7 linked regions of the Homo sapiens genome follow. The protein of the gene in region 1 interacts with the protein of each later gene in a biochemical or structural test. Each region holds a gene or a part of one and is shown in the gene's direction. Other genes may lie near its edges. The genes, in order: CALM1, SCN5A, LMO7, SYK, MIP, DRD2 and AKT1.

Evidence for each region.
Region 2: the proteins of CALM1 (region 1) and SCN5A are reported together in a solved structure, tested with the Homo sapiens proteins (2 studies listed by BioGRID, with this or other methods).
Region 3: the proteins of CALM1 (region 1) and LMO7 form a complex in vitro, tested with the Homo sapiens proteins (one large-scale study listed by BioGRID).
Region 4: of the proteins of CALM1 (region 1) and SYK, one has a biochemical effect on the other in vitro, tested with the Homo sapiens proteins (2 studies listed by BioGRID).
Region 5: the proteins of CALM1 (region 1) and MIP form a complex in vitro, tested with the Homo sapiens proteins (2 studies listed by BioGRID, with this or other methods).
Region 6: the proteins of CALM1 (region 1) and DRD2 form a complex in vitro, tested with the Homo sapiens proteins (one study listed by BioGRID).
Region 7: the proteins of CALM1 (region 1) and AKT1 form a complex in vitro, tested with the Homo sapiens proteins (one large-scale study listed by BioGRID).

The regions. Positions count from the first base shown.
Region 1 is NC_000014.9:90,403,529-90,407,028, forward strand, and holds part of CALM1 (calmodulin-1), read left to right. Parts: intron 1-333; coding exon 334-440; intron 441-850; coding exon 851-986; intron 987-1,160; coding exon 1,161-1,189; 3' UTR 1,190-3,500. UniProt on the Homo sapiens protein: Calmodulin acts as part of a calcium signal transduction pathway by mediating the control of a large number of enzymes, ion channels, aquaporins and other proteins through calcium-binding. Calcium-binding is required for the activation of calmodulin.
Region 2 is NC_000003.12:38,548,688-38,552,187, reverse strand, and holds part of SCN5A (sodium channel protein type 5 subunit alpha), read left to right. Parts: intron 1-629; coding exon 630-1,867; 3' UTR 1,868-3,500. UniProt on the Homo sapiens protein: Pore-forming subunit of Nav1.5, a voltage-gated sodium (Nav) channel that directly mediates the depolarizing phase of action potentials in excitable membranes.
Region 3 is NC_000013.11:75,807,330-75,810,829, forward strand, and holds part of LMO7 (LIM domain only protein 7), read left to right. Parts: intron 1-150; coding exon 151-870; intron 871-1,824; coding exon 1,825-1,854; intron 1,855-3,500.
Region 4 is NC_000009.12:90,874,819-90,878,318, forward strand, and holds part of SYK (tyrosine-protein kinase SYK), read left to right. Parts: coding exon 1-31; intron 32-2,752; coding exon 2,753-2,962; intron 2,963-3,500. UniProt on the Homo sapiens protein: Non-receptor tyrosine kinase which mediates signal transduction downstream of a variety of transmembrane receptors including classical immunoreceptors like the B-cell receptor (BCR).
Region 5 is NC_000012.12:56,451,858-56,456,020, reverse strand, and holds the start of MIP (lens fiber major intrinsic protein), read left to right. Parts: upstream 1-1,363; 5' UTR 1,364-1,407; coding exon 1,408-1,767; intron 1,768-1,973; exon of another isoform or gene 1,974-2,109; coding exon of another isoform or gene 2,110-2,112; intron 2,113-2,265; coding exon 2,266-2,430; intron 2,431-2,868; coding exon 2,869-2,949; intron 2,950-4,163. UniProt on the Homo sapiens protein: Aquaporins form homotetrameric transmembrane channels, with each monomer independently mediating water transport across the plasma membrane along its osmotic gradient.
Region 6 is NC_000011.10:113,419,899-113,423,398, reverse strand, and holds part of DRD2 (D(2) dopamine receptor), read left to right. Parts: intron 1-3,500. UniProt on the Homo sapiens protein: Dopamine receptor whose activity is mediated by G proteins which inhibit adenylyl cyclase. Positively regulates postnatal regression of retinal hyaloid vessels via suppression of VEGFR2/KDR activity, downstream of OPN5.
Region 7 is NC_000014.9:104,778,749-104,782,248, reverse strand, and holds part of AKT1 (RAC-alpha serine/threonine-protein kinase), read left to right. Parts: intron 1-2,032; coding exon 2,033-2,161; intron 2,162-3,500. UniProt on the Homo sapiens protein: AKT1 is one of 3 closely related serine/threonine-protein kinases (AKT1, AKT2 and AKT3) called the AKT kinase, and which regulate many processes including metabolism, proliferation, cell survival, growth and angiogenesis.

The DNA.
Region 1 (3,500 bases):
GGAAAGATTCAGCCTGCGGAGTGGTGTATGCTATTTTTCTCTTGAACTGTACAGCCCTTCATGACCCTTCCATGGGCTTGAATCCAGATGTGCAGTTTCCTTTGTATAATTAAATACTATCCTGGGCACTGATGATGAGTTTGAAATTATGTGAAATTGCCCTGTGAAGTGTTTGAACGTTTTAGACCTGCAGATGATTGAACCTAGTAAGATAGTCTGCCCCTTTGTCCTAGTACATGTTTACCGTTCCGTACAGTGGTTCTGAAATGATTACTGCAGAGCAGCGTTAATGGAGTGCTTACTTTACATGAGCTTTTTGTTTTTTAATTCGAGGTAATGGCACCATTGACTTCCCCGAATTTTTGACTATGATGGCTAGAAAAATGAAAGATACAGATAGTGAAGAAGAAATCCGTGAGGCATTCCGAGTCTTTGACAAGGTAATCCAGCATCTACATAGCAGATGGTACTTAAGTATGGCTTCTTCCGCTTTCACTTCTAAAAGCTATAATAATGTTATAGACAGAAGACTTAAATCTAACTGCCTGAGCCTCTGATCTCACTTTCAAAAATCCTCCTTATGGTAACCGTATCAGGGGAGGGTAGGCATAATAAATAGGAATTTTGGACCATGTTTCTTGACTGTTACTTTGAATTGTTGTGAGCTTTTGCAAATCCTGTTTTCTGCATTAGCTGTTTGCATGTATTTAGTAGGTTAGAGGTGGGAACTAGAGATCAGAGAATTGTTTATGGCAGCAGAGTTAGCAGTAACTTGAGAGGGCATAGCTAAGTCAAAGACCTACTTCCCCACACTACATCATTAGCAATAACAATTGCTGAATGTTCACAGGATGGCAATGGTTATATCAGTGCAGCAGAACTACGTCACGTCATGACAAACTTAGGAGAAAAACTAACAGATGAAGAAGTAGATGAAATGATCAGAGAAGCAGATATTGATGGAGACGGACAAGTCAACTATGAAGGTAAAACTAAATTCTCTGAGCTCAGTGTTTCATAGTCTTACCTTTAGATCTGTAAGCAAGCCAACTGCTTCACTAGACAGCCTTTGACTTTATTTTATGTACAGTAAAGATGTTGTGTTCATTAAAGCTGTTTTCAAAGATAACCAAAAGTTACTATTATATTTGTCTTTTCAGAATTCGTACAGATGATGACTGCAAAATGAAGACCTACTTTCAACTCCTTTTTCCCCCCTCTAGAAGAATCAAATTGAATCTTTTACTTACCTCTTGCAAAAAAAAGAAAAAAGAAAAAAGTTCATTTATTCATTCTGTTTCTATATAGCAAAACTGAATGTCAAAAGTACCTTCTGTCCACACACACAAAATCTGCATGTATTGGTTGGTGGTCCTGTCCCCTAAAGATCAAGCTACACATCAGTTTTACAATATAAATACTTGTACTACCTTAATGATAAGGACTCCTTAAAGTTCCATTTGCTAATGATTAATACACTGTTTGGGCTGGCCAGTTTTTCATGCATGCAGCTTGACGATTGAGCACAGTCAGGCCTTTGTATTAAAAATGAAAAATGAAAAAACAAATTCAAAACCTATTCAAATGGGTTCTAGTTCAATTTGTTTAGTATAAATTGTCATAGCTGGTTTACTGAAAACAAACACATTTAAAATTGGTTTACCTCAGGATGACGTGCAGAAAAATGGGTGAAGGATAAACCGTTGAGACGTGGCCCCACTGGTAGGATGGTCCTCTTGTACTTCGTGTGCTCCGACCCATGGTGACGATGACACACCCTGGTGGCATGCCCGTGTATGTTGGTTTAGCGTTGTCTGCATTGTTCTAGAGTGAAACAGGTGTCAGGCTGTCACTGTTCACACAAATTTTTAATAAGAAACATTTACCAAGGGAGCATCTTTGGACTCTCTGTTTTTAAAACCTTCTGAACCATGACTTGGAGCCGGCAGAGTAGGCTGTGGCTGTGGACTTCAGCACAACCATCAACATTGCTGTTCAAAGAAATTACAGTTTACGTCCATTCCAAGTTGTAAATGCTAGTCTTTTTTTTTTTTTTTCCAATAAAAAGACCATTAACTTAAAGTGGTGTTAAATGCTTTGTAAAGCTGAGATCTAAATGGGGACAAGGCAGGTGGAGGGGAGGCCAGTGTACATGTAAATGCCCACAGCCCAGCATTGGGTTTCCCTCCCAAGGCCCCAGCACCAACCTCTGAGCCCAAGACCTTGCCTGAAAACAAGCAGATACCGATTGCTTCATCCTATTTATGGACATGTAGGTCTAGTTGCATTTTCACTGGGGGGAGGGGGGAAGGTGAATTATGGTAACTTTTAATGATCTATTCAGGCAGTAGAGCTCTTAAGGAAAAAAAAAAACCCACTTTCTCTCAAGCATGTATTTAGGGGTTGTTCTCAATTGTGCTGCTGATTACCTGTCTTATGTAACTACTTGAGACCATCTGCAAGAGACATGATTTAGTGTGTCTGTAATTCAATCTTCGCTGTGTGTGGTAGAAGCAGTAGTCACTTTTGTAAGCCAGTCTCTTCATGCCTAAAAGACACTACCAGTCACCTTTGATTCGCGACTTTTAATTTATGATTATACTTAGCCTCCTCCTCCTTTTTTTTTTTTTCCCAAGTTGACTTGACTTTGCTTTTTTCCCCCCAAGTAGAACTAATGCTAGCTTCCAGCTTGAAAGTAAAACTCCAGTGTGGAGTGAATTTTGTGTCTAATTATAAACCTGTAACCAAAACTCAGACATCTGGTACTGGTCTTTGCATTGAGATTGGTCCCTGTAAAACCCCCTTTAAAAGCATATTGCATTTAGTACAGAGCTCTTTTTTGAAATGAAGGCTGGAGATGTGCATTTTTCACGGTGTTAACTGGTTGTATCTTATTAGCAAGGAGATTGGGGTTTTGAGTGTTTGCGTGGGTGGTTTCAATTTGCCAGGGAACAGTGGCAGGCTGCTAGCAAGGCAGTGAGAAGCTCTTGGCAGCCAAATGGGTGCATTCAGGGCTGATTTATAGAGACCCTTGGCTTCTCCTTCTCCTACTCCCTGTCTTTCTGGCATTTTGTAGCTTGTTAGATTTTCTGCCAGAGGGGTGGGTCAGAGCAGTGGAGGGGAGACATCGCCCATGTGCTTCTGCTACTGGTCCTTGGGCTGGGTGGTTGGTAGAGGAGATGTTGACACTATGAGCTAAGGGTTGGCTTTTGTAATTACCTGAATCTGAAAGGAATGCCTAAGGTTACCTTGGGGTTTCTCTTCTGGTGAGATAGGGTTCCTGGTTTGAGTAAGTTAATGTCCTGGATATTTCTTGTGGCAGGGGGTGGTCAAAGAGCCTGATTGCTGACCCAGTCTCAGGCCTGTGGTCGATGACCTCTCGGTAGTTTCAAAGGGGGCTGGAGGGGGATATTTGACTTGTTTTTTCGAAATGTAGCCTTCTAACCCTCAAGTCTTTAGAAGCTGGGTGGACTCTTAGTGGTCCTGCAGCGTATCCTAAA
Region 2 (3,500 bases), on another chromosome or scaffold:
AAGGAGGCAGAGTTAGGAGAGCGATAAGAACCATCACAGAGAAGCTGAGAGAAGACACTGGCCATGGCGTGGCATCAGGGAGCACTGATTTCTGGGCCAGTGTTTCATGCCCTTCGATGGGCACATAAATCATCTGGGCTTCTTAAGATGCAATGGGCTGGGGTGGAGCTGAGATTCTGCATTTCTGATAAGCACCTAGGAGATCCCAAGGCTGCTGGTCCTCAAACCACACTTTGAATAGCAAGGAGCTAAAAGACCTGAGTTCTGGCCCAAGCTGGGTGGGCAAGATACTAAGCAGATCCCCTCTGGCCTGAGAACCCAAGATGTAGAAGATGGGCCTAGGACAGCTCTATTGTGTAGGTACACACTGAAGATTAAGGAATGAGGGGGCTGAGAAGGAACCCTGCAAAGGACCCATTTTTCTGGGTCACAGATGCAGACATGGAGACTCAAACAGACAGGAGCAGGCAGAGTCCTAGCATGCCCAGTGGACGCAATCCTGGAAGGGCCGCCTCTCCTTGGCTCCTTGCCATATAGAGACCCCCCCCCCACCGCCAACCCCTGCACAGTGATGCTGGCTGGAAGACAGAGGTGCCACCAGTAGCCACAGTCTCTGTTGTTTCCCACAGGCACTGTGCTCTCGGACATCATCCAGAAGTACTTCTTCTCCCCGACGCTCTTCCGAGTCATCCGCCTGGCCCGAATAGGCCGCATCCTCAGACTGATCCGAGGGGCCAAGGGGATCCGCACGCTGCTCTTTGCCCTCATGATGTCCCTGCCTGCCCTCTTCAACATCGGGCTGCTGCTCTTCCTCGTCATGTTCATCTACTCCATCTTTGGCATGGCCAACTTCGCTTATGTCAAGTGGGAGGCTGGCATCGACGACATGTTCAACTTCCAGACCTTCGCCAACAGCATGCTGTGCCTCTTCCAGATCACCACGTCGGCCGGCTGGGATGGCCTCCTCAGCCCCATCCTCAACACTGGGCCGCCCTACTGCGACCCCACTCTGCCCAACAGCAATGGCTCTCGGGGGGACTGCGGGAGCCCAGCCGTGGGCATCCTCTTCTTCACCACCTACATCATCATCTCCTTCCTCATCGTGGTCAACATGTACATTGCCATCATCCTGGAGAACTTCAGCGTGGCCACGGAGGAGAGCACCGAGCCCCTGAGTGAGGACGACTTCGATATGTTCTATGAGATCTGGGAGAAATTTGACCCAGAGGCCACTCAGTTTATTGAGTATTCGGTCCTGTCTGACTTTGCCGATGCCCTGTCTGAGCCACTCCGTATCGCCAAGCCCAACCAGATAAGCCTCATCAACATGGACCTGCCCATGGTGAGTGGGGACCGCATCCATTGCATGGACATTCTCTTTGCCTTCACCAAAAGGGTCCTGGGGGAGTCTGGGGAGATGGACGCCCTGAAGATCCAGATGGAGGAGAAGTTCATGGCAGCCAACCCATCCAAGATCTCCTACGAGCCCATCACCACCACACTCCGGCGCAAGCACGAAGAGGTGTCGGCCATGGTTATCCAGAGAGCCTTCCGCAGGCACCTGCTGCAACGCTCTTTGAAGCATGCCTCCTTCCTCTTCCGTCAGCAGGCGGGCAGCGGCCTCTCCGAAGAGGATGCCCCTGAGCGAGAGGGCCTCATCGCCTACGTGATGAGTGAGAACTTCTCCCGACCCCTTGGCCCACCCTCCAGCTCCTCCATCTCCTCCACTTCCTTCCCACCCTCCTATGACAGTGTCACTAGAGCCACCAGCGATAACCTCCAGGTGCGGGGGTCTGACTACAGCCACAGTGAAGATCTCGCCGACTTCCCCCCTTCTCCGGACAGGGACCGTGAGTCCATCGTGTGAGCCTCGGCCTGGCTGGCCAGGACACACTGAAAAGCAGCCTTTTTCACCATGGCAAACCTAAATGCAGTCAGTCACAAACCAGCCTGGGGCCTTCCTGGCTTTGGGAGTAAGAAATGGGCCTCAGCCCCGCGGATCAACCAGGCAGAGTTCTGTGGCGCCGCGTGGACAGCCGGAGCAGTTGGCCTGTGCTTGGAGGCCTCAGATAGACCTGTGACCTGGTCTGGTCAGGCAATGCCCTGCGGCTCTGGAAAGCAACTTCATCCCAGCTGCTGAGGCGAAATATAAAACTGAGACTGTATATGTTGTGAATGGGCTTTCATAAATTTATTATATTTGATATTTTTTTACTTGAGCAAAGAACTAAGGATTTTTCCATGGACATGGGCAGCAATTCACGCTGTCTCTTCTTAACCCTGAACAAGAGTGTCTATGGAGCAGCCGGAAGTCTGTTCTCAAAGCAGAAGTGGAATCCAGTGTGGCTCCCACAGGTCTTCACTGCCCAGGGGTCGAATGGGGTCCCCCTCCCACTTGACCTGAGATGCTGGGAGGGCTGAACCCCCACTCACACAAGCACACACACACAGTCCTCACACACGGAGGCCAGACACAGGCCGTGGGACCCAGGCTCCCAGCCTAAGGGAGACAGGCCTTTCCCTGCCGGCCCCCCAAGGATGGGGTTCTTGTCCACGGGGCTCACTCTGGCCCCCTATTGTCTCCAAGGTCCCATTTTCCCCCTGTGTTTTCACGCAGGTCATATTGTCAGTCCTACAAAAATAAAAGGCTTCCAGAGGAGAGTGGCCTGGGTCCCAGGGCTGGCCCTAGGCACTGATAGTTGCCTTTTCTTCCCCTCCTGTAAGAGTATTAACAAAACCAAAGGACACAAGGGTGCAAGCCCCATTCACGGCCTGGCATGCAGCTTGTCCTTGCTCCTGGAACCTGGCAGGCCCTGCCCAGCCAGCCATCGGAAGAGAGGGCTGAGCCATGGGGGTTTGGGGCTAAGAAGTTCACCAGCCCTGAGCCATGGCGGCCCCTCAGCCTGCCTGAAGAGAGGAAACTGGCGATCTCCCAGGGCTCTCTGGACCATACGCGGAGGAGTTTTCTGTGTGGTCTCCAGCTCCTCTCCAGACACAGAGACATGGGAGTGGGGAGCGGAGCTTGGCCCTGCGCCCTGTGCAGGGAAAGGGATGGTCAGGCCCAGTTCTCGTGCCCTTAGAGGGGAATGAACCATGGCACCTTTGAGAGAGGGGGCACTGTGGTCAGGCCCAGCCTCTCTGGCTCAGCCCGGGATCCTGATGGCACCCACACAGAGGACCTCTTTGGGGCAAGATCCAGGTGGTCCCATAGGTCTTGTGAAAAGGCTTTTTCAGGGAAAAATATTTTACTAGTCCAATCACCCCCAGGACCTCTTCAGCTGCTGACAATCCTATTTAGCATATGCAAATCTTTTAACATAGAGAACTGTCACCCTGAGGTAACAGGGTCAACTGGCGAAGCCTGAGCAGGCAGGGGCTTGGCTGCCCCATTCCAGCTCTCCCATGGAGCCCCTCCACCGGGCGCATGCCTCCCAGGCCACCTCAGTCTCACCTGCCGGCTCTGGGCTGGCTGCTCCTAACCTACCTCGCCGAGCTGTCGG
Region 3 (3,500 bases), on another chromosome or scaffold:
CAAGAGTCCCCACAATGGTCCTCTAAAATGATTTACCCTCAGTAACTGGCTAGTTGGTCTGCTAATCACCTTTGGCTAGTCGATCTGCTAATTACCTTTTCTCCCTAAGCTTAATAAGATTCTCTTTCCTTTTTCCTCTCTGTGCATCAGTCAGTTTTTACTGCTTCAGGCCCTCCAAACATACTCTGATGACATCTTGTCTTCTGAAACACATACCAAAATTGATCCCACTTCTGGCCCAAGGCTCATAACCCGCAGGAAGAATCTCTCTTATGCACCAGGCTATAGAAGAGATGACCTCGAGATGGCAGCCCTGGATCCTGACTTAGAGAATGATGATTTCTTTGTCAGAAAGACTGGGGCTTTCCATGCAAATCCATATGTTCTCCGAGCTTTTGAAGACTTTAGAAAGTTCTCTGAGCAAGATGATTCTGTAGAGCGAGATATAATTTTACAGTGTAGAGAAGGTGAACTTGTACTTCCGGATTTGGAAAAAGATGATATGATTGTTCGCCGAATTCCAGCACAGAAGAAAGAAGTGCCGCTGTCTGGGGCCCCAGATAGATACCACCCAGTCCCTTTTCCCGAACCCTGGACTCTTCCTCCAGAAATTCAAGCAAAATTTCTCTGTGTACTTGAAAGGACATGCCCATCCAAAGAAAAAAGTAATAGCTGTAGAATATTAGTTCCTTCATATCGGCAGAAGAAAGATGACATGCTGACACGTAAGATTCAGTCCTGGAAACTGGGAACTACCGTGCCTCCCATCAGTTTCACCCCTGGCCCCTGCAGTGAGGCTGACTTGAAGAGATGGGAGGCCATCCGGGAGGCCAGCAGACTTAGGCACAAGAAAAGGCTGATGGTGGAGAGGTCAGAGTGTGTTTCTGCAAGGATTTTGCTTGTAATGGATGGTCTTGTGTAACTTTTCTCATGCGAGAAAGCAGCTCATCGTGTTGCTCAACTCTGCATGTCGCGTGCCATTTTGAAGCATCCCGTAAAATTTAATTTGCTTTGAAAAACCCTCAGTCGTTTTGTACAAAAAGTGCAATTCCATATTTGCATATCTCTAAATAACTTATTTAGGCCTGTTTAAGACTGTATATACATAAACCTTGCCTTTGACTTAAGCAGTACTGTGGTACTATCCACCAATATGAAGTTTCTGGACTTCTCATGTTCAGGCATTTTTGTAACAGTCTGGTTATAGTTTGGTTTTATGTGTTGCTCACATTTTAGAGTGTCTGATTTTTTTGGGGGGGTGAAATTTTCCCTTAAAATATGGCATTGCAAATTTCATTTAACTTAATTTTTGGTTTTGGCCTAGGTTTCTTGGACTATCATTTGTAACTTATTTTTATTTATGAAGTTCAGAGTAAACGTTGATGTTAAAATGCATGAATGGTATTTGTTGTCTGCTGAATTTTATGTGTATGTAATCATGGCCATTTTGATAGTTTGTATTATGCAACTTGCCTTTTTGATGAATGTTCAGTTTGTGGAACTTAGAGATGGACAAATCTGATTAGGTTGAATAAAATTAGAGGATCCAAATCTAACTTAACAGTTCCTGACAATGGGAAGCCTTTTCATATGGATTTGTTAGCTCAGAGTAAATTGAGGAAATTCTTCATTTTGCTTAATCTGAATTTCCTGAGATAGGAAATTGATGAGAACTTGAGACATGATCAAGAATGTGATGGAAGAAGTGACCTTTTGAGATTTGTCCGTCTCCAGTTAGATTCTTAAGTGGAAGACATTGAACGTTTAGAAACTAATATGACTGGGAAAAATGACTTTTTAATTTTTGGTTTTCTGGTTTCTTAGACTCTTTCAAAAGATTTATGGTGAGAATGGGTAAGTTGTGTGGTTCACAGTAAAAAATCTGTGCGTGTTGTTTGTTCTTTGTATAACTTACTGTATTTCTGGCATGGCATGTCACTAAATGGGGTTGTTGTGTGCTGTGCATGATATTTTTTAAGTGGGAAATGTTTATCTTGCAACCTAATGGTAATATTTCTGTGTCTTGGTGCCCAGTGCAAGATAAAATTATTTGTTTTATTAAAAATTTAAACTTCAGCTTCATCCCTTCTTTTTTCCTTTTTAAAAATTTAATGAGTTGATTAAAAGTCACAAAAGCACTTGCCTAAGATTAGGTATATGTATTTTGGTATTTGGTTGCTACATAGACTAAAATTCTGATTTATGGATGCTAAAGCCCAAATTACTACATTTTAGAAAATCTGTGATGGAAAAAGAATATTAGCATTTACTTCAAGTTTAGAATACACCCAGTTGACATTATCCTATAATCGGCCAACTGGGAGCTTCGTTAGTAGGGATGCATTAAACTTCCCTAGGTGGTATTTGGAAGTATTATATTTTCAAGATTCCTGATTAGGAAAAAAAAGTTATAACATGGCTATATTTATAGTGCAAAATAGACCTTCAAAAACTGCAAAAATATTTTTAATTTCTAATATCACTGTTGCAAAAACTACATTTTTTTTTTTTTTTTTTTTTGAGATGGAGTCTCGCTCTGTCGCCCAGGCTGGAGTGAAGTGGCGCAATCTTGGCTCACAGCAACTTCCACCTCCCAGGTTCAAGCAATTCTCCTGTCTCAGCCTCCTGAGTAGCTGGGACTACAGTTGCATGCCACCACACTCTGCTAATTTTTGTATTTTTAGTAGAGACGGGGTTTCACCAGATTGGTCCGGCTGGTCTCAAACTCCTGACCTCAGGTGGTCCATCCACCTCAGCCTCCCAAAGTGCTGGGATTACAGGCAAAAACTACATTTACAGTAAATCATTTATTCATTCTTAGTACAAAATCACAAGGTGGCTATATCTTAATATTTTCCACCAAACTTTCTGTAACTTTGTGAATCTAAGGGCTAATAGTGTTTGAGCAAGAGGAAGAGAGTTAAAGGATGACAGATGTTTTAATCTGCTCAAGCCTCAGTAGCTAAGTATCTTCCCTTATGAGGATTTACTTCATCTATAAGAATCTCTAGTTTTGATAGCTTTTTATAACTTTGATAATTCAGAAATGTTGGAAGCTACTAAATGTAAAGCAGTATAACCATTCTAGATGCCAAAGGTGTAACTGAGCCACAGGCAACAAATTGCAAGTACTTGTTAGCCACTGATTTTAAAAACCAGGGTCCCTGCATGCTTTCCGTGTGCCATGCAAAGGCACATTATCCGCTTTCCAGCTCATCTGCATGATGCTTAAACATTTGCTACTCTCAAGTCATAGGAAAGCTGTTTTAACTTGATTAAAAATCTCTTTGCAGCTTTAAGCATGTTGAATTGTAACTTTCAGAAAAATTTTCATTTGTAAATTAAATATAACTTTATAATGTAAGCAGCTCTCAGAAATAGTTGCTTTTCTTAAAGGAAATAAAAGTACCCAGAGTACAAGTATGTGGTGGAAATGTCAACATGTACAACCATTTCAGTGGCTGGATGTGTTCCCTGTAGTGAGGGGTAAATTATATGAC
Region 4 (3,500 bases), on another chromosome or scaffold:
CTGTGAAAAAGGGCTACTACCAAATGAAAAAGTAAGTTGCTATGTTCCACCAGCCTCACCCTCACATGAGCTCAGGTTCTAGACATGACTGAGAATAACAAAATGTAACCTGGCATGACTAAACCCTTTTTTTATTAATGCTACCATTCTTGTTAATTTCTGGTACTATTATAATGAAAGCGTCCATTACCTTTAATGGCAAAAACTGCAATTACTTTTGCACCAACCTAATAGTACATGCACCTTATGGAAAATTAGGAAATAGAAACAAGCAGAAACATAAGAAAATAAAAACATCAAATTGGCATGGTGGCTCATGCCTGTAATCTTAGCAATTTGGGAGGCTGGGATAGGAGGATTGTTTGAGGCCTGGAGCTTGAGACCAGCCTGGGCAACATAGCAAGACCCTGTCTCTACAAAAAAAATAAATAAATAAATAAATAAATAAAACATAAAAAATTAGCCAGACATAGTAGTGCACACATATACTTCCAGCTGCTCAAGAGGCCAAGAAGCCAAGGCTGCAGTGAGCCATGATTGCACCACTGCACTCTAGCCTGGGTAACAAAGCAAGGCCCTGTTTCAAAAAACAAAACAAAAAAAAGAAAAGAAGAACATCATATTTGTATAATACCATCCCAACACTACTACTGTTAACTAAACATTACTACTGTTAACTTAATCTTATTGTATATATTTTTAGATCTTTATTTGTACACACAGATATTATTTAATTAAAACAAAATCATTCCATTATAACAATAGTTTTTACATTTATTTTCTTTAATTTTATAGTTACATCTCATTTTTCTTACATGAAAATTATTGATTCCAAATATGATTAGTATAATTATTTATTGGCTTTATCCTATGATTTCAGATAACAATACATATTATACAACAGTTAAAATTGCTAAATTTCGAAAATATCTTTGTATTTCTTTTGGTCTTTAGAAGGTACCCAACATAGAATGTACAAGTAAAACTACTGGTTTCTAAAGTCCTTTGAAATACACCCTCTGTTTGAATTGGTATGATACTAATATGAATGTGGTTAGATTTAGTAGCTTCATGGTATTTCAAATGTAAGGGATTTTTGTAAAAAAAAAATTCGTGAGTAGGTAATTTTTATGATTCAAGGGTTAAAAATATAGACAAAAATATACACAGACATGCGTGCTTTCCGGCCGGGTGCCGTGGCTCATGCCTATAATCCCAGCACTTTGGGAGGCCAAGGTAGGTGGATCACCTGAGGTCTGGAGTTCAAGACCATCCTGGCCAACATGGTAAAACCTCGTCTCCACTAAAAATACAAAAAATTAGCTGGGTGTGGTGGCATACACCTGTAGTCCCAACTACTTAGGAGGCTGAGGCAGGAGAATCACTTGAACCTGGGAGGAAGAGGTTGCAGCCAGCCAAGATCACACCATTGCACTCCAGCCTGGGCAACAAGAGTGAAACTCTGCCTCAAAAAAAAAAAAAAAAAAAGAAAGAAAGAAAAAAGAAATGCTTGCTTTCCAATCTGTCCCTTCGATTTGTTTTTGTGCATGTGTGTGTGTGTAAATTAGATACACATACATGTATGTATACACACACAAACATACACACATATGTATACATTCACAAGTATATACATGCGCACATATATACACACACAATCAAAATTGGCTGTGATACTTATTTTAAAATATATGTTTGTATATCACAGTCATTTTGTACAATGAGTAAAAATGTTTCTGTATTAATCCTAAGCTTTTTCAGATTATGAAAGGTTGTGATCTTTATTCTGTGCTTAAATTTGTGAATTAACATAGACATGACTGTGGACATAATTTCAACTAGAGAATTTGGGGAGAGGAGAGGCTCTCTCGGTCAATTTGGGGCAAAATGATGTCTTTACAATACTGAGTCTTTCAATCTATAAACACAGCCCATCTCTCCATTTACCAGGTCTTCTTCAGCCTCTCTCAGGAGAGTTGTTTACCTTTTCAATGTATTACATTGAAATATATGCTTTTAAATTCTGCACCTAGAAATTCACTTTCAACAATTATGAAAGGCATTTTATATTCACATTCATTACATGTAATCTGAGATGGTGAATCCCAAGATGTTACAGGAATTCGTACATGTCATCGTTGGTGAAGTTTATTTACAAGTTATTTAAATATTTTACAGTTTAGGGTTTTTGCTTGGTTGGGACATTCTTCAGTACTGTTCTTCACCATTCTTTTTATTTTATATTATTTTTTAGAAACAGTGTTTCACTGTGTCACCCAGGCTGGAGTGAAGTGGCAAGAAGCTCACTGCAGCCTTGAACTCCTGAGTCCAAGTGATTCTCCCACCTCAGCCTCCCGAGCAGCTGGGACTACAGGCTTGCACTGTCACACCTGGGTGATTTTTTTTAGAGATGGGGGTCTCACTATGTTGCCCAGGCTGACCTTGAACTTCTGACCTCAAGCAATCCTCCCCTTTCAACCTCCCAAAGTATGGGGATTGTCAGCATGAGCCACCATGCCCAGCCCCCACCATTCTTTTTTAGTAATGGAGTATTACTCTCATTGTCTATAAAATAAGGGAATATAGGTTGGAAGGCCAGCCATCCATTACAGGCTTCTGAAGACACATTGCCACTCTGTGGCAGGTATTTCCGTGGGACTGTTTCCACAGGGGGATTATGCTTCACAGGATAAGATTATCTAGAAGTGAGGCATTTTGGAAAGTTTCTTGTGTGTTATGATTTCTCTTGCAGAGTTGTGAAAACCGTGGCTGTGAAAATACTGAAAAACGAGGCCAATGACCCCGCTCTTAAAGATGAGTTATTAGCAGAAGCAAATGTCATGCAGCAGCTGGACAACCCGTACATCGTGCGGATGATCGGGATATGCGAGGCCGAGTCCTGGATGCTGGTTATGGAGATGGCAGAACTTGGTCCCCTCAATAAGTATTTGCAGCAGAACAGGTATTGTCAGGTGCCCCCACACATCTGGAAGCTATCCCCTAAGGGACAGGGCCCACCCCTGGATGGGCCGAGCAGCCTGATTTCCTTGGGAAGCCTTCCCACCCTCCTGTGCCTTCCTTTATTGGTCCATACTCAGGGACCTTGACAGAGGGACAGGGAGACATAGTCTTTGGATTCAGCTCTGTTAGCTCTAGTTGTTCAGAGAAGAACTCATTTGACAGTTTTGTCTTTTTTTTCTTCCTGTAGTCATTCAGTCTTGGCCTAGTGATAGACTCAGCCTCAGAATATCTTGACATGGAATCTCCTTTCTCACTGGGAAGAACACTTTCTTTTTAAAGAAACATTTTAAATAAATGCTTTTCTAAGAGGTGACAGTTAAGTCTTATCTGTTTGGCTGACCTTATGTTCTCATGAGTGATGACTTCTGAAAATACCAATCACTGCTAATTGATTACATCCATCAAGGGAGTAATTGTGTTCTTCTCATCTAAAGCTGTTGTTGAGATGAAGAAACTCACTTGGAGTAAGACAGAATGAT
Region 5 (4,163 bases), on another chromosome or scaffold:
AGCAACTCTTCCTGCCAGTGGATAGGTTAGATGGACCCTCTACCTTCACTATAACTCTCTTTCTGTCCATCCCCAAGCTGGGTATTATGAGGAGAAAGCACAGCCCCTGATCTGTGTTCCTTCTCTCTCCCCACAGGTGTACTGGGTAGGACCCATGCTGGGCACCATTCTTGCAGGCCTCACCTCGAATTTCTGCTCTCTGGTGCTTCATGAGAAAAGTTTGTGGCCGGTATGACTTGCCACTATGTGGAGATGGTAGAACCTATCAGTATGTCCCATTCTACCTTCTCCATCACCACACAACCCCACGCCTAGGTCCCAAGTCCCTCACCAAGCCCGAGCACAACTGAACCTCTTTCCCCAAACTTTCCTTCCCCATATTATCCTTTTCCCTCTCTTTGATCGGCTGTTTCCCCAGATCTGATCCCAGCACACCCATACCTTTCCCTGGGGATCAAGGCTTAGGGTGTGCTGATCATGGCTGTATTAAAGGACATTAGACCTTCCCATTGCTTCATAGCCATGACTGTTTCCTTCCTTTCAGTACTTCTTGCTATGACCATGTGAGTTAGGAAAGATGAAATACAAGCTGATTCTAAGGTTTAACTACGAGTCCCTTTCTTATTCCTATCCCTCCAACCCCACTCCCAGCCCATGCAGGGATGATAGTGTCTTCTCTCTGTCGGTCCCTGTAGTTTAAAAAGCCAGGCCTAGGGTTTGAAAAGGGAGGTGCTGTCATGGACTGGGGGTAGGGAACCCGGGCTCAGAGAAAGCCAGACGCAGCAGAACTATTTTGTCCCAGAGCTGCAGGGTCCACAGATTCCAGCCCAAACTAGCCAATGGGAGAAAGGCTTCTAATCCCTGGGAACTAAAGAATTCTCTTTAGTTATCCAACTTCCCTGCTGAACCCCACTCCTTACCACTCCCCCCAACCCTTACCCCTGGCAGACTCAGAGGAGGCTGAGGCCCCCAGGAGCTCAGCCCCAAATGCCATGAAGTGAGCTCAGCTTGATGGACCTTCCAAAGAGAGCTGAAGAGTATTCTAATGTTGATGTCAATCAGGACAATGAACCCCAATTTTGACACACACAGAAGGGCAGACTCTTCCAGTCCTGCTGTTCTTCACCCCCACTTCTCGTAGTCTCTCTTGCTGTGACCCCAATCCCACCCTCACTGCCATGGCTCTCTCGGCTCATCTCCCAGTTGAGAAAGGCGGGAAAATCCAGCATTTTTACCATGTAGGGGAGGGGACTTAGCCCTCCACAGCTGTGAAGGGGTTAAGAGGCTGGGCCTGCTACCTCAGCCTGCCCCTCCCAGGGATTAAGAGTCCTCTATAAAGGGGACTGTCCACCCAGACAAGGCCATGGGGGTAGCAGGGACCCAGGCACTGTGACCATCCCCCCTGCCATGTGGGAACTGCGATCAGCCTCCTTTTGGAGGGCCATATTCGCTGAGTTCTTTGCCACCCTCTTCTATGTCTTCTTTGGGCTGGGGTCCTCACTGCGCTGGGCTCCTGGACCCCTGCATGTTCTGCAGGTGGCTATGGCATTTGGCTTGGCCCTGGCTACACTGGTGCAGTCTGTGGGCCACATCAGTGGAGCCCACGTCAATCCTGCAGTCACTTTTGCTTTCCTTGTGGGCTCCCAGATGTCCCTGCTCCGTGCCTTCTGCTATATGGCAGCCCAGCTCCTGGGAGCTGTGGCTGGGGCCGCTGTGCTGTATAGCGTTACCCCACCTGCTGTCCGAGGAAACCTAGCACTCAACACGGTAATGGTTGGCTGAGAGGGGATGGGGAACCTGGTGTCCTGTCTCTCTATTGCCCTGACTCCCTGACTGGTGCAGGTGAATCAGCTCCCCTGGGGTCTGGGACAATATGTGCATGTGTGAGCATGTGTGTGTTGAAGTGGTGAGGATTGACAGGTGGTTTAGAGCTTTAAGGAAGGCATAGGGCCCTGGACTGAGAATTAAGAAACCTGAGTTTGAGTTTCAGCTTTCCTTCCAACTCCTTGCAGGTTCTTAAGGAAACTTATTTTACCTTTCAAGGCCTCAGTTTCCTCATACATGTAAGTGGCTGCAATCATTTCCATCATGAAGGAGCACTGTTAGGAGATGGTAAGATGCAAATACAATGATTATGAAGGGGGTTGTATTATCCTTCCTCTCCACGGACCTGATGCCGTAACGAGATCCTTGCCGGGGAAGTCTTGAGGAGGTAACACTGTGGCAGCCCTCCTGAGCTGTCTCTCTTCTTCTTCCTTTGCACAGTTGCACCCTGCGGTGAGCGTGGGCCAGGCAACCACAGTGGAGATCTTCCTGACGCTCCAGTTCGTGCTCTGCATCTTTGCCACATACGACGAGAGGCGGAATGGCCAACTGGGCTCCGTGGCCCTGGCCGTTGGCTTCTCCCTTGCCCTGGGGCACCTCTTTGGGGTAAGCAGGAAGGAGAGCAACTTCTCATTCAAGGATTCCGGGGCCCCTAAACCTTTCCCAACTTTTAAGGGTTCTTCCTGCCTACTTCACTGTCAAACATGAACATTGTCCATTGCACTCTCTACTGGCACAAAGGAATCAACTCTGCCCTATCCCTCTCTTGTGACTGCTATATCTAGTCCTTCTTGACCCCAAGGTAGAAATGAACGTATCATGGCTAGACATGGGCTTTGCCTATGGATCCATAGTCTGTTCCCAGACAGGGCATCAGTTGCCCTCACCCCATTGCAGGAACCCCTGGAGAGTCATGCAGGCTGTCCCTCTCCACTTGCTGCTGGCTGGAGAAAAGATGGCAGCTCTCAGGGGCAATGTGGGTTGTGGGGAGAGAAGCTGGGGTGCAGTAGGGGGGTGTCTCAGTTACAACTGTCTCTTTTGCAGATGTATTATACTGGTGCAGGCATGAATCCTGCCCGCTCCTTTGCTCCTGCCATTCTCACTGGGAACTTCACTAACCACTGGGTGAGTGAAGGGAGAGGGGCAAGATCCTGAAGCCCTTCTGGATGGTTGTGGACTGCAGGTTCCAGGCTGGATTCCTGCTTTCCTTCTGCGTGTGTTGGCTGCTGTACCAGCACTCAGCTAAGGGGGCTGTCAGAGAGTTTGGCATGCCTGTGTGAGCAGGATTCATGATTTTGCTAGAAGGAGAGGCTCTTGCTCATATTTTTCCTTCTCTGGTTAGTCAGGGAGTATGCACTGAGTATTCACTGGTTGCTGAACTAGCGGGTATGAAGAGAGACAACTAAATATGAGCAGAATAAATTCTGCTCTCAGAGATCAAGATGTGTTGTGAGCACAGATGGGCCTCAGCCCCATTCCAGTTCTAATACGTTATCGGCTTTGTGTGTGACCATGGGCAAATAATCACTCTGTGCTTCAGTTTGTTTTACTATAAAATGGGACATTACGAGAAATGTGTGAAAGTTATATGTGAGAAACATTTAGCACAGAATCTGATATAAAGTAAGCACTCAATAAATATTGGTTATGTTGATGTTGTGCAAGCCAAACATATGGAAATAATTTAAAAATTTTTCAAAGCTGTACACCCATTTTCATAACAGCATTATTCACAATAGCCAAGAGGTAAAAGCAACCCAAGTGTTCCTCAGTGGATGAATGGATAAACAAAATGTGGTATATACATAAATGGAATATTACCTGTAAAAAGGAAGGAAATTGTGACACATACCACAACATGGATGAATCTTGAGGACATTATGCTAAGTGAATAAGCCAGTCACAAAAAGACAAATACTGTATGATTACATTTATATGGGGTATTTAGAGTACTCAAATTCACAGACGCAAAGTAGAAGGATAGTTACCAGGGGCTGATGGGGGTGGGGTGGAATAGGCAGTTGTTTAATGGGTATAGAGTTACAGCTTTGCAAGATGAAAAAGTTCTAGACATAGGTTGCACAACAATGTGAATATACTTAACACTACTAAACTGTACACTTAAAAACATATATATATTTTTTTGAGATGGAGTCTCCCTCTGTCACCCAGGCTGGAGTGCAGTGGAGCTTGATCTCAGGATCTCAGCTCACTGCAACCTCCGCCTCCTGGGTTCAAGCAATTCTCCTGCCTCAGCCTCCTGAGTAGCTGGGATTTCAGGCGCCTGCCACCACGCCCAGCTACTTTTTGTATTTTTAGTAGAGATGGGGTTTCTCCCT
Region 6 (3,500 bases), on another chromosome or scaffold:
GAGGCTGAGGCAGGAGAATTGCTTGAATCTGGGAGGCAGAGGTTGCAGTGAGCTGAGATCATACCATTGCACTCCAGCCTGGGCGACAGAGCAAGACTCTGTCTCAAAAAAAAAATAAAATTAAATTAAAACAAAAACAAAATAGGAAATAGAAGCTTTGGAGAAGTTGCCTTTCTTCACCCAGGTCACAGGGAGAAATGCTGATGGAGAAATCCCAAAGCAGATATTATTCTCCAGGAAGACACCTTCAGAGCCAGCGAGCAGATGTGGGAGCATTTAGGGATCATCGGTGGGCACAAGCTGGATCCTGCCCCTTTCTCTGCCCAGCTTTCTAGGATGGCATGTCCAGGACTCAAGCAATCTGGGAGTCTAGGTGCATGGGAAGGCATGGGATCAGGCATTTAGGAAAGTGCCGGTGCTCTGCCCACTGAACCGTTACCTTCCTTCCCTGAGCAGGAGAGGAATTGACCAGTGCCTCTGAGGCCATCCCTGCCTGAGAGGGAAGGGGTTGTTGAAAGAAAATGAGAAAGCTTTGTAGGTTTAAACAGGGGAGAAATCTAGATGAGGACGCTCAGGTGAGGAGGCGAGACTGGTGGAAAGTGGCACACCTCCCTGTCCCTGGGCCCCCAAGGGGCTCGTGCGCTTACTGTTCTCACCACCACCCCGGGCCCAAGGGAGCTCTGATCCATCACCCCTTGGCTTCCTTTACTACAGCCAATGCAGGCTGCAACTTCCAAAATGACCTGACTGGATATTAAGGAAGAACCAAAAGGAAACACAAATACAAAACCACATAAAAATATTCAGTTGACACAGGCCAGGAGTCCAATTCCCCCTGGATCCATGTTTATGAGGGCCCCTAGACTCTGTCCATGCCTTCTTAATTCTTACGCTTGATCCCCTCCTTCTTCCCTCTTCCAAAGGAGGGTCCTAGGTCTCAGACCATAGGGAAAAATGGTAGAGCAAACAAACTCTCTGTGCCTCAGTTTCCTCATCTGGAAAATGCAGATAATAATAGTATCATACATCATAGCATTGTTGAGGATCGAATTAGTTGATGTATGAAAAGTGATTAGAATGATACATGGCTCACAGTGAGCACTGTGTAAATGTCAGCCATGGCGATGATGATAAAGATGAAGATGACAATAGACATCCAGCACTGCTCCACATAGGGAGGACTCTGTCTTTCCTATTCACCGCCCCCTTGGGATAAAGAGGAAGGAGAGAGTACTCCCTATGTTCGCCCCAGGCAAGTAGGTACCCTCTTCCCAGAGGAACGTGTGTTCTACCCAGGGCTCTGGGCATGGCTTCTGTTAGCTTCCAGACCCCCTGTCCCTACCCAGGCACTTGGGTAGGGACAAATCCATACATGGGCTATAGGGGGTTCCCAGGAATCTGTAAGTCTTTCGAACAGATCCTTTAAACATGCTTGTTCACCTTATTTTAAAGGTGAAGCTGAGTGTGTCAGGGGAGGAGGGTGCAGAAGCCATTCTCAGAGGGCAGGGCTCAGACTTCCCCACAGCATCTCATCAAACTAGAGCTGGGCACTGAGCCTTGTTTAATGGACATTATCTCAGCGATTTGTTGTCCCTAGAGAACGTCCCAGGTGACGTCTCACCCTGCCCTGATGTCCTATCAGCGCACCCTCACAACCACGCACTGTCCCCTCTCTAATACATGCTCTTGTCATCCAGATTTTTTCCTCCTGTTCCATTTCCAGCAATGCCATGCCAACATCTGTCTGGCTTAGGACTAAGTGTGCGTTATTTATCTTGCTAAGTGTATGAAAAGCACGCTGGTTTTGGAGTGAGAGGACCAGGTTCAATTCCCAGCTCCATTCCTTTCCATCTAGATGCTATTGGAAGAGTTCCTGATGTCCACATGTGCCATTCCATGTCAGCCTCACAACCCTTTAAGGAGCGGCTTCCTGTGTGCATTTATTTTCTAGATGAGGAGATTGAGAAGATGAACAAATATCTCAGAGTTATTCATTCACTCAGTCAGCACTGACTGAGCACTCCGAGGTCTTACCCCAATCCTTGTGCAATGGGCTAAGGCACTGACCTGCTGGGGATGCAGAGGTTGACAGGGCCCCTACAGTGCAGTCTGCTGCCGGTGACAGTGGAGCAGTCCCCATAGGAGGTGTGGGGCATAAGGCCCAGCATGAGGGTGTCAGGGAAGACTTTCAGGGAGAAATGATGCTTTCGGAAAAATTATGCAGGAGAGGGAGGGAGACACTTGCATTCTCAAGAAAGCCACCCAGCAGGGAGAGGGAGTAGCTGGCTGGAGGTATGGAGGAGAGGTGGTTATGTCATTTGCCTCTGAGGCTTACTGTCTGCATTCTAAGATATAAGCATCAAGTGTTTGGAACAGTGCCTGACACATGGTAAGTCCTTAGTATTATTACAGTTATTAGGACTTAGCTGAGCCAGCTCAGGGCCTGTACTGCAGGTCTCAGCTTTATGTGAGCAAGAGCATTAAGGAATGATGCCTGGATGCCTGGGGGTGTGAAGAAAAGAGCCTTGGGTTCGACTAGGGAACCTGGGGCCACTCCTTCCTCTGCTACTAAATCACCAAGTGATCTTGTTCTGTTTTCTTCTCTGACCCTCCCTAGTTTTGTCCACCCTTGAAATAATCATCTTTCCTTTTCACATTTCATGCTTACCAAGTACTTGTCACCTAATTATCTCCTCTCTTGATAAGCTAGATGGTCCCTTCCAGGGCAGCTTAGTAGAGAGCATGGGATGTGATGTTTCAGATTCCAGCTCTGCTGCACACCTGCCAGGTGAACTTGGCCACGTTACATGGCCTCTCTGGGCTTCAGTTCCCTCACCTATGAGTGGGATAAGCAAGCCCTTCTTGTAAAAGTTTTAAGAACGATACATGAGATAAAGTGCAATGCCCACAGTAGATGTCTTATGGACAGTGGCCACCAATGCATTTTCTTGAGTCTTTAAGTTAGCAGCCCTAACTACTCTCCAAGGCAGCTTCCCCTGGGACCACAGAGGAAATCTCTTTGTTATTCTGGGCTCCAGATAGGCCAGTGCAAGGAGAGATTTAAGATGTCCATGAAGGCAGGACTGTGTCTGAATTGCTCACAACTGTGTCCAGGAGCCTAGGATAGAGGCTGGAACACAGTAATTTGCTCAATAAGTGTTTGTAGGAAAGAAGGGATGGCAGAAAGGAGGGAAGGAGAGGAGGAAGACAGGGAGGAAGGCCCTGATATCTCAACCTAGATCCCCAGTGGCTCCCAAGTACTGGTCCCAGGAGGGGCTTCAAAGTGGGATGTAAATCAGGTAGTGCTGGTTTTCTGCCCAGTGGTACCCTAAAGGCACACTCTGTTTATGCCAGGAAAGCCCTTTACGTACCCTCCTGCCTCCACCCGCAAAATGGGCATCCAGCTGTTAGCTCCTGCCAAACTGGTCAGCGCAGCAGCACAGGGAGCTGGGAGAGAGGCCCTGGTACGGGGCCCCCATGTGAGCTCCCAGGAAGACAGT
Region 7 (3,500 bases), about 14 Mb from region 1:
GACAGCTCCAGACTGGCATGCAGGCGGGTGGGCGTGAGCAGCGGGGTGGCCCAGGATGGGGGACGGGTGGGGTGGGCTGCATGCAGCCCCCTGAGCCTGCTCTGCTCTCACTGAGCGCCCCTGCCTGCCCGCTGCACCTGCAGGGGCCCTGTGGCTGGGGGAGGGGACGTGGGAGGCGGGGTGGAGCTGCGTGGCACGTATGTGCGTGTATGTGCACACTCGGGGGTGTGCGAGATCCCAGGTCAGGGACAGGAGCCGGCACCCAAGGGTGGCAGGACCACGCCTGCTCGGCAGCCCACTGGCAGGGGCATGGAGGGCTTGCGGAGTGGGTGGGGTCTCCTGATGAGTGCTCTTGGGCACAGGGGCAGATTCTGGGCCCTGGATCATCCTCCCTGCAACTGGGTGTTGGCCGTCCTCCAGAGGTGTCAGGCAGCTATGAGTGGGCTGTGGCTGTCCCCTTCCTGGTCCACCCCAGACCTGACAACAGCCTCTTCCCACACTCAGGCCCTGCTGGGTGGGGTGTCCCCACCCTCCACCAGCATCCCCCCAGCAGCCCTGGCTTGGGCAGAGAGAGGGCTGGTCTTGTGGAGACCACGCCCCGTGGTGCTGGTGGGAAGGGCATTGGGCAGCTGGGGCCGGGGTAGGAGGGAGAGGTCACCTGGCCGGGGGGTGGCCATGTGTCGAGCCTTGGTGGCTCACCTCTATTAAAGAACTCCCCCGTGGCTCCCTGGAAAGTAGAATGCCTGCTGGGATGCCCATGACCCATGTCCTCTGAGCTCCCCTGGGGCTGCTGCCCTGCTGGGACTTCCCTGTGCACCAGGGAGGGCTGGACGCGTCTGGGCTCACCACGAAGACCCAGCAGGACTGGGTGGTGGGTGGTCTGGTGATGGGACAATTGCTTGTCCCCCACATCCCTCCAGGTGTCCCTGTCTGGGGCTCAGTGTGGCATGAAAACCCAGGCCCCAGAGCTCAGGGACCCCAACCCCTTACCCTGGCCCCCTCCCTAACCCCTGCCCAGTGACCCCTCAGATGAAGCAGTTGCCTAATTAGTAAGTTCCCTGTTGTTCAAACTCCTTGCTTGGCAAAATGTAAGTGGAACATTTTTTTCCGAGTGTCAGTATGAAAAATGGTACTTGCTGGGCTATCACCGAGGACAGCTGCTCTGATTCTGAAGTGTGAACGCCTGCGTACGGCTGATGCTGCAAAACTTGAGGGAGAATGTTCCCGTGTACCTGAATGACCCACGGGTGGGACGCGGCAGGGCCGACGGCGGCAGGGCCTGAGTGTGGGTCTCAGCCTGGGGACTTGGCACCCTCTGTGCCCTGGGGCCCCTGCCCAGCTGGCTGGGCCACCTCCGTGTCTGGCTTCATCGGCAGTCCCCAAGACGGTGCTCCAGGCCCCTAGACAGGGAGTGCGATCCCACGGCAGTGGGCAGTCCTGTCCCGCGAGCCCGGCCCTCAGTCTGAGTGGTGCTGACCTCTAACTGTGGACGCCATGCTCCATCCTCCTGGTGGGTGGCGGCGGGGCGGGGGGGGCGGCCATGCTGGGCAGCCCACACAAGCCACTGTCACCTGCTGTCGCCACCTGGCCGACCCTGGTTGATTGGGGAATGCTGTCAGCCCCGCAGCCCCTGTGGCCATAGCTGGGGCCCGAGCTGCTGCTGGTGCCTGCTGGGGACTGGCTGGTTTAGGGCTGCCTCCTCCAGGAAGGCTGTGCAGACTGGCCCAGACCTCTTCCCAGCCTCCTGTCCATGGTACTCCATCCCCTGCGTCCAGCTGGCCCAGCCCGTTTTCAGACACAGCTCGGGGTGGCTCTTCTGAGAGGGGCGCTGTGGTGGGGCGAGTCTGCCTTCCCGTTGACCCAGGGCCGTTTCTGTCGCTGGCCCTAAGAAACAGCTCCCGTACCGCGCCTGCCCCCTGGGACTCAGGCATCCCAGGCACATCTGTCCTGGCACACCCAGTTCCTGCCTGGCTGCCTGGCGAGGGTCTGACGGGTAGAGTGTGCGTGGCTCTCACCACCCGCACGTCTGTAGGGGAGTACATCAAGACCTGGCGGCCACGCTACTTCCTCCTCAAGAATGATGGCACCTTCATTGGCTACAAGGAGCGGCCGCAGGATGTGGACCAACGTGAGGCTCCCCTCAACAACTTCTCTGTGGCGCGTAAGTATCCCCTTGGCCTCTCGGGATTCAGATTTGGGGGGTTGGCTGGAGCCCTCTTTGCCCACCAGGCCCCACGATGGGGGTCCCCTGGAGCCTCCAAGTCCTGGGCTGGCAAGCAACAAGCACTGGCTGGGTGGGGGTCTCTGGGCCGAGTCCCGAGGCTGGCTGGGCAGGGGTCTCCGGGCTGAGTCCCAAAGCTGAGGCTGGCTGGGTGGGAGTCTCCAGGCTGAGTCCTAAGGCCGAGGCTGGCTGGGCAGGGGTCTCTGGTCCAAGTCCCGAGGCCGAGGCTGGCTGGGCAGGGGTCTCCGAGCTGAGTCCTGAGGCTGGCTGGGCGGGGGTCTCTGGTCCGAGTCCCGAGGCCGAGGCTGGCTGGGCCGGGGTCTCTGGGCTGAGTCCCGAGGCCGAGGCCGGCTGGGCAGGGGTTTCTGGGCAGAGTCCTGAGGCCGAGGCTGGCTGGGCGGGGGTCTCTGGGCCGAGTCCCAAGGCTGGCTGACCCTGGAGCAGTTCCCTGGTGCCCATGCTCTGGAAGCTGGAGGGTCCGGACAAGTGGCAGCAGAGCCCAGTCTCAGGGTGGACAGCTGCCCCGGGGGCCCCTCCTCCAAGGGGGTTAGATAGAGCCCATCAGGGCCTCTCCTTGGGAAACCCCTTGGGTGAGGGGGCAAGAGTCCATTGGGGTCTCCAGCTCTGAAGCCTCCATCACTCGAGGAAGAGCTCGTGCCTCTCCCTGCACAGGCTCTCAGCCTCCAGACCCCATGGCAGAGCCTTTGCTTCCCCTCTGTGAGGCTGCCTCCTTGCCCATGGAGGGGCAGGTGCAGAAAGGCCAGCGGGGGACCTTGGCCGGAGCATCCCACAGAGATGAGAGACATGTGACGCTCCCTGCTCCGCCCTGCTGTGGCTTTATTCCTTACCTGTAGCGGGGGCAGGTGCGACCCTACCCATGTCAGACGGGAACCCTGGCATGGAGACCCAGGCGCCCTGCTAGGTGGGAGGCTGGGGACACGTGGGCCTCCCAGCATGGTCCCCATTTTCTGTGTCCCTGTCCTGGAGCCCAGCTCTGCCTGTGGCAGCCAGAGACACGGGTTGGGCATGCAGGTGTGACTGAGTGGCTAATTAGGGCCCAGTTGTGGGCCATCTGTATGTGGCAGGGCTGGGTAACTGCAGGCCTCTGGGATCTGTCTCAGGCAGGTCTGTGGTGCAGAGCGAGGTGCCCACCAGGGGCTGGCCTTAGGTTCCATCCCCATGTGCTGCATCGGCCCCTCCCCTCCAAGTAGCTCTGCCCTCCTTTCTTTGAGGCCTGCGGTCCTCCGACTCCCTTGAACTTGCTGGACCCCCAGGTTCT